Homo sapiens: one gene and its partner. The protein of the gene in region 1 purifies or fractionates together with the protein of each later gene. This does not show direct contact. Each region holds a gene or a part of one and is shown on either strand. Other genes may lie near its edges.

Region 1 (3,748 bases):
AATAGGTAATCCAGACAAGGTACTGGAATTTGTAGTTGTTGCAGAGAATCAAATTGTGAGAGTATTTGATCTGACCCCCTCGATTGGCATGAAGAAACTGAGGTCTGGAGAGACAAAATTACTTTCCCAAGGCCAAATGGCAAGTCAGAGGCAGTATATCTACGCTCTCCTTTTCTTATGCAATGAATGAGCTGGGTGGCATTTTCCCTTTCCTGTTCTTGTACTGACATTTCTGGGAATATGTGAAACATAAGGCAAGTACTTATACCCCAAAATTATATCAAGAAGATTACTGAATAAAAAAGTGGCTATATAGCACACACATACTAAATGTGAAGCTCACAGCTTTTGCAGCCAGGACTGAAAACCACTGCTCTAGCATGTTGCCTTCTTAAGTGAATGCCCAGGGCTTCTATAGTTGGGCAAATATGCTCCCTGTCTCCTGGCTTAGCTCATTCCAGGGCTATAGAACATCCTTTCCCAAGGGAGTGGATTCACACTGCTTCCATAGTCTGAGATCCTGAAGTGAGCCTTCCCCATCTGCCACAACAGAAAGTAAAAGTAGAACCTGTTCCAACTATTCTCAGTCTGTTCAACAAACAATTATTGAGCACTTGACAATTGTGTATATGGTGCAGTGATAATTGAATGGATGGTCCAGAGGGGGTCAAGACAGAGCAGCTGCCACCTGGAGATGTTCATGATATGGACTTTTCCAAGAGGAAGAGACCAACTGGAAAGATGTACCTGATTCTTAGGCTTCTGTTTGGGTCTTTTTTTTTTTTTTTTTTTTGCCTTTTGAAGGGGTGCAGCATTCCTGGAGGTACTGCAATACCAGGTCAACATGTAGAGTGAACAGAGCAAGCTCTTATTCCATCTCCCTGCTCCCAAAATCCATTTAATATGTTGTCCTCAGATGGAGGACGTATCAGATATTAAGACGATAAGAACAGATACCACACTTGATCTTAGCCAAAAGGCTGAGAAGTGATGCTGCCTATGTCTTGAGTTCATTCTCTCCCCACTGATATTATTTTCTTCCCCTTGGCAGGAAGATGATGTCTGTTAGGAAGCCTCTGAGGTTCCTGTTCCTTTCTGCTGGATTTATGCCGCTGCCAGCATCGGAGCAGTTTCTACCACCCACACATTTCCTTGTTAAATAGCCAGGCCTCTTCCCATGGGGAATGCTTTCATTAAAAGAGGCAGCCACTGCTGCACAGACCTGCAGGCTTCTCAGGGCTAGAGCAGGCGGGGGTGCAGTGGGCAAAGCCAGTGGAGGCACAGGCTGGGTTGTGGCAGTCTCCTGGAGGGCCTGCCCTAGTAATGAGGGCCCAGGCATGCGGCTGACCCTTTGAAGATGTGTCCTGAAGCTCTCTCATGGTGATCAATGACAGGAACCCAGACTCCTGCTTTAGCCAAATGATAAGTTTGGCCTCTTTTATTGGAAACCAAATTACAAATTAATTAGCAGCTTCCTCTGGGGCTGGGTGTGAACATCAACACCACCCAATGATGAATTTCTATCATGAGCCCCCTCACTGCAAGGGCATAAAATGGCCCGGGCGGCATGGGGTCTGTAGACATCCAGGTAGCTGTGGCTGAGGAGAAAGGGCCTCTCCAACATGACATCCTCCTGCTGTGTCACCAACAACTTGCAAGCCTCTCTCAAGAGCTGCCCCCGGCCTGCCTCGGTCTGTTCCAGCGGCGTGAACTGCCGGCCTGAGCTGTGCCTGGGCTATGTCTGCCAGCCCATGGCATGCCTGCCTTCGGTCTGCCTGCCCACCACCTTCCGGCCAGCCAGCTGCCTCTCCAAAACCTATCTATCCAGTTCCTGCCAGGCAGCCAGTGGCATCTCCGGCTCCATGGGCCCCGGCAGCTGGTACAGCGAAGGGGCCTTCAATGGCAATGAGAAGGAAACCATGCAGTTCCTTAACGACCGCCTGGCCAGCTACCTGACGAGGGTGCGGCAGCTGGAGCAGGAGAATGCGGAGCTGGAGAGCAGGATCCAAGAGGCCTCTCACTCCCAGGTGCTCACCATGACTCCTGACTACCAGTCTCATTTCAGGACCATTGAGGAGCTCCAGCAGAAGGTGAGGGCAGCGGTGAGGTGAATAGGCTCTCTGGGAAGGGAACTGGACTAGCTGGCATTCCAGATTGGAATCTCGTTAGCTTATTAAGCTATGTTCAGGACAAAGAGACTTCCCTAGGGCATAGGGTTATTTTATAATTTGAGCACTCAGCCTGAGGCTTTCATGTGGAGAGATCTGGGATCTAGTCTCAGTTCTACCATTGCCTCATTGCATGACTTTGGGGGTCCCATCCCTTCCCCAGGCCTCAGTTTTCTCATCTGTAAAACAGGGATAATAATGGTCGTTATCTAATGGGGTTGTCAAAAGGATTTGATGAGATGATGCAGGTCAAGTGCTTGGAACAGCCCCTGGTCCACGGTAAGTTTTCAGTAAATGTCAAAGACCCTTCTAACTGTCACATGAGTGACTTCAGACATGAGATTCTTCCCTTCCACATTGCTTGGCACATCCAAAATGGGGAATTTGAATTTACGAAGCTTCAGGTTCTTAAAAAATACATCTCAAGTTCTCCAAGGACTAGCAATTCGCTAAATATCTCCCAGAGTTCCAGGGAAGAGGACCTTCTGCAGGGATGGCTGCAGGGCTGCTGGATCCTACCTTTGCTGCTGTCTTCTCTTCATTTGGGTTCTTCTTGCTTCGTCTCATCCTGAACTAACCCTCTCCATGTGCCTTGGCCTACAGATTCTGTGTACCAAGGCAGAGAATGCCAGGATGGTTGTGAACATTGATAATGCCAAACTGGCTGCCGATGACTTCAGGGCCAAGTGAGTTCAGTCGGGGGGCTGGAGCTGGGGAGGACCTGTCCTCATAGGCTCTGGGGCAACTTTCCATTAGTTTCACGGAGGGTTGGAAAGTGCCGGCAGTTTAAGGCCTTCCCTGAGTTCTGCATTCTGTTTCACCCTTGGTTGCTGACCCTGTCCTTGTGCAGGTACGAGGCAGAGCTGGCCATGCGGCAGCTGGTGGAGGCCGACATCAATGGCCTGCGCAGGATCCTGGATGATCTCACTCTGTGCAAGGCTGACCTGGAGGCCCAGGTTGAGTCCCTGAAGGAGGAGCTGATGTGCCTCAAAAAGAACCATGAGGAGGTGAGGCTGGAAGTCCCGCTGAAGTGGCCCCGGGAAGCAGAGGGGGAGGAACGTGGGGTATGGGGTTGGATAGGCGTGGGTTGAAATTCCCAAGCCTGCCACATGTTGTTTTAGTGACTTTGCCCAATTTATGGAATCTTCCTGAGCCTCCTCTTCTGTAAAATGGGGACAACATGATCACGCAGGGTTATTGTGAGGATTTAATGGACAGGATATGGATCATGGAAATCCCCAAGGCATGGGTATGAAACACCTGCCACTTGGTCAACTCTCAGAAGTGTAGCCCCCTTCCCTTCTGCATTTCCTGGGCTAGTGTGACTGCCAAGCACTCACTAGTGGCAACTGCATTTTTTTCTCTCGAGAGCCACACAGCAGAGGTAGAGTGGTGCAGTGGTGCCGGGGTGAGTTATGTTCCAGATCTCACGTTGAATGGCCTGTCCATCTCTGCCTGGCTCAACTCTCAGAAGCAGTCCCATCTCTTCTGAGAGGGAGTACAGCTGCAGTGGTCTCCTCTTTTTGCCCCTATCCTTATTTTGTCCTCCCTTCTGTTTGCATATAAAATGCTCAAGCTGA
Region 2 (3,648 bases), on another chromosome or scaffold:
CCTGGGCGGATGTGGAAGATGGGGGCCTCTCTCAATGCTGATCTGCAGGTGAGGGGGCCCTCCCTGAAACCTGCTTTCTCTGGGCCTCCTTGGAATGGGCCTTGGTGGAGATCTACAGACAGCCCTGGCCCAGCCGGATTGAAGGCACTGTCTAATTGGGAGGGCATTAAGATCGTTATAATTAATTGGCATCCCGATAAATGGCATGGTTGCCTAATTGGGGTGGTTGCTAGGGAACGAGGCCTCACTTGGAGCCTAAAGGGGAAGAAGCGCTGGGCTGGCCACAGTTGGGTGTCAGGGTACAGATCCAGCAGTGAATGGACCGGAAGGGAGAGCAGTCCATCCGTATCTGCTGGTGTTTACTGAGCAGCTGCTGTGTGCAAGTTGCAAATGGAGTATCAGTTAGGGGTACTTGCCTAGAAGAACTGTAAAGTAATCAGGTTCCTTTCTCTTGCAAGCAACGGAAAAAGAGAAGAAAAAAACTCAAGCCAGCTTAAGGAGAAAAGAAGTGGACTTACTGGTTTTCATAACCAAAAGTCTTAAGGTGACTAACTCTAGCTTCAGACACAGCTGGACCCACAGCTCAGATTTTGTAATGAGAATCCATTCCTATCCACCGCTCCTCTGCCTTCCATGAGGCTGATGTCTCTCCAGCTCTGGGGCGGGCAGTCCCTGGCAGCTGTGGGCACCGTGGCTAGGAGAGCCAGACTGCCTGGCTCCCTGCCCAGCAGTGGGATCTGGGGCATGCTACTTAACCTTTCTGTGCCTTGATGTTCACATCCAACAAATGATGATGATCATAGCACCTGTCTCCTGCTTGTGGTAAGCATGAAATGAGATGATCAATGTCAAGTGCTTAGCAGGGCGTCTGACCCAGGTGAGCCTTCAGTAGGCATTGACTGTTACCATAACTTAGGTGTCAGGACAGATGTCATGGAGCAGAGGGGTCTCATCCCCTCTGGTTTAAGCCCAAAAGGAAAGAACAAGCCTCTGATCTGGCAATGCACACCTGAGCCCCATGGTTCCCTCTGATTGGACTGTTTTTTGTCCAAACCAGTCACTGGCTAAGGAAATGAGTTGCCAACAATTGGCTTAAGCCAGGCTCACAGGCCTCTCCCTGGAGCTGGATGGAGGCTGACTGCTGAGACCCCAAAGCCTGGAATAAAACAGCACGGGGAGTCCCCAGTGAAAGGGAAGCCCGGTTGCTGGAGAGGCAGATGGCCAGTGCCTGCGATGATGGGCCACTAATGTGAGCAATGCTGGCCAGATGGACCCATCTTCATTTTGGCCAAGGTGGAGACTGGGGAAACACGCTGCCTGGGCAATGCCTCTCCCTTCCACCAGGGCCAGGAGGCATCAAAGGCCTGACTTTTCTGCCTTACTGTCTGAAGGATGGGGCCTGGCCTTGATCCTGTGCTTTCGGGGGGCCAGGGGCAGTGTTTGTCTAACCTCCCACCATGAGAATCATCTGGCTGTATTTGTTTAAAAAGGCAAAGACCAGATCCTGTTGAATCAAACTTCTAGGGAGGGTCCTGGATGCTGGGGGGCATGACCAATATGTCATGTGTATATTCTATATCAGCAGGAGGGTTTGGCGAAGAGAGCTCTGGAGCGTGGGCCTCTTTGTCTTCCTGCCTAATGCAGGGGCTGTCAGAAGGCGGGGAAAATGCTCTAGGCCTGGCGTGCTGGCTCATGCCTATAATCCCAGCACTTTGAGAGGCCGAGGTGGGAGGATCCCTTGAGGTCAGGAGTTTGAGACCAGCCTGGCCAACATGGCAAAACCCTCTCTCTACTAAAAATACAAAAATTAGCCAGGTGTGATGGTGCTTGCCTGTAATTCCAGCTACACAGGAGGCTGAGGCACCAGAATCGCTTGAACCCAGGAGTCGGAGGTTGCAGTGAGCTGAGATCGCACTACTGCACTCCAGCCTGGGCAACAAAGTGAGACTCAGTCTCAAAAAAAAATTTAAAAGAAAAATGACTGCATGATGTGATGGGGTGGGAGGCAACTTTAGGCAGGCTGTCAGGGAGGCCTCTGTGAGGATGTGACCTTTGAACTGTGACCTAGATTTTAGGAAGGAGTCCGCCTTGGAAAGATCTGGGGGAAGAGCATGCCAGGTAGAAGGAACAGCTAGTGCAAAGGCCCAGAGGCGGTGGGAGGGGCCTGTCCAAGACACCTGCCCCAAACACAAATAGAAGTCAAGTGGGGTAGGCCAGGCGTGGTGGCTCACGCCTGAAATCTCAGCACTTTGGGAGGCTGAGGCAGTTAGATCACTGGAGGTCAGGAGTTCAAGACCAGCCTGACCAACACGGTGAAACCTCATCTCTGCTAAAAATACAAACATTAGCCAGGTGTGGTGGCACGTGCCTGTAGTCCCAGCTATTTGGGAGGCTGAGACAGGAGAATCACTTGAACCCGGGAGGCAGGGGTTGCTGTGAGCCGGGATCACACTTCTGCATTCCAGCCTGGGCAACAGAGTCAGACTCTGTCTCAAAAAAAAAAAAAAAAAAAGTCAACTAGGGTAGAGGGTCAGGAGTAAGTGGGGGAGGGCACGTCAGAGATGAGAAATACAGGCCATGCTAAGAAATTTTAGACTTTATTTTAAATAAAATGGATAACTGTCTGGACGCGGTGGCTTATGCCTGTAATCGCAACACTTTGGGAGGCCAAGGCGGGTGGATCACCTGAGGTCAGGAGTTCAAGACTAGCCTGGCCAACATGGTGAAACCCCATCTCTACTAAAAATACAAAAATTAGCCAGGCACGGTGGCGCACACCTGTAATCCCAGTTACTCGGGAGGCTGCAGCAGGAGAATCGTTTGAACCCAGGAGGTGGAGGTTGCAGTGAGCTGAGATTGTGCCATTGCACTCTAGCCTGAGTGACAGAGCAAGACTCCATCTCAAAAATAAATTAAAAAATAAAATGGAGAACCATTGGAGGGTTTTAAGTCAGAGAATGATATGATTTGTGTTTCAAGAAGATCCTGCTGGCTCCTGTGAGAGGCGTGCTGTGCAGATGGAAGTGGTATCACCGGGACTGTTAGGCAACAGAGAGGGCCCGAGAGTGGCTTGGACCGTGGTGGTATCAATGGAGATGGAGTGAAATGGGGATTGGAGATGTATTTTGGAGGTAGGGCCCACAGGACTTCCTAGTGGATTGGATTACAGAGTGAGGGAAAGGGCTTTGATTCTCAACCGAGGGTGATTTTGACACCCAGAAAACATTTTAACACTATCCGGAGACAGTATAGGTTGTCCCAACTGGGGAAGGGTTGCTACTGGCATCTAGAGGGTAGAGGCCAGGGATGCTGCTTAACCTGCAATGTACGGGATGACCCCACAGTGAAAAATGATTCAGCCCAAATATTCATGATGTATCCTGCCAAGGAGTCAAAGGTGACTAGGCAGCCTGGTGCGTGGTGATTGCTAAATAGGGAAGATAGGAGAGAAGGTTTTGGGGAGGAGGAGTGATCTGGAATTCCGACGTGGAAATGTTGGGTTTGAGATGAACCCCACCTGGATGTCTGAAAGCTCAGTGGGTGGTGAACGTGGATGTCTGCAGCCGGTCGGGGCTGGCAACCTAAGTTTGGGAGTTATCGGCATATTGATGTTATTTTAAGCTGTGGGACTGGACACAATTATCCAGA

The links. The genes of interacting proteins can lie anywhere in the genome.
Region 2: the proteins of KRT32 (region 1) and SULF2 purify together in Homo sapiens (co-immunoprecipitation; one large-scale study listed by IntAct). This does not show direct contact.

Annotation. Positions count from the first base shown.
Region 1 is NC_000017.11:41,465,200-41,468,947, reverse strand, and holds the start of KRT32 (keratin, type I cuticular Ha2), read left to right. Parts: upstream 1-1,561; 5' UTR 1,562-1,622; coding exon 1,623-2,090; intron 2,091-2,771; coding exon 2,772-2,854; intron 2,855-3,018; coding exon 3,019-3,175; exon of another isoform or gene 3,176-3,748.
Region 2 is NC_000020.11:47,778,880-47,782,527, reverse strand, and holds part of SULF2 (extracellular sulfatase Sulf-2 isoform a precursor), read left to right. Parts: intron 1-2,873; exon of another isoform or gene 2,874-3,648. UniProt on the Homo sapiens protein: Exhibits arylsulfatase activity and highly specific endoglucosamine-6-sulfatase activity. It can remove sulfate from the C-6 position of glucosamine within specific subregions of intact heparin.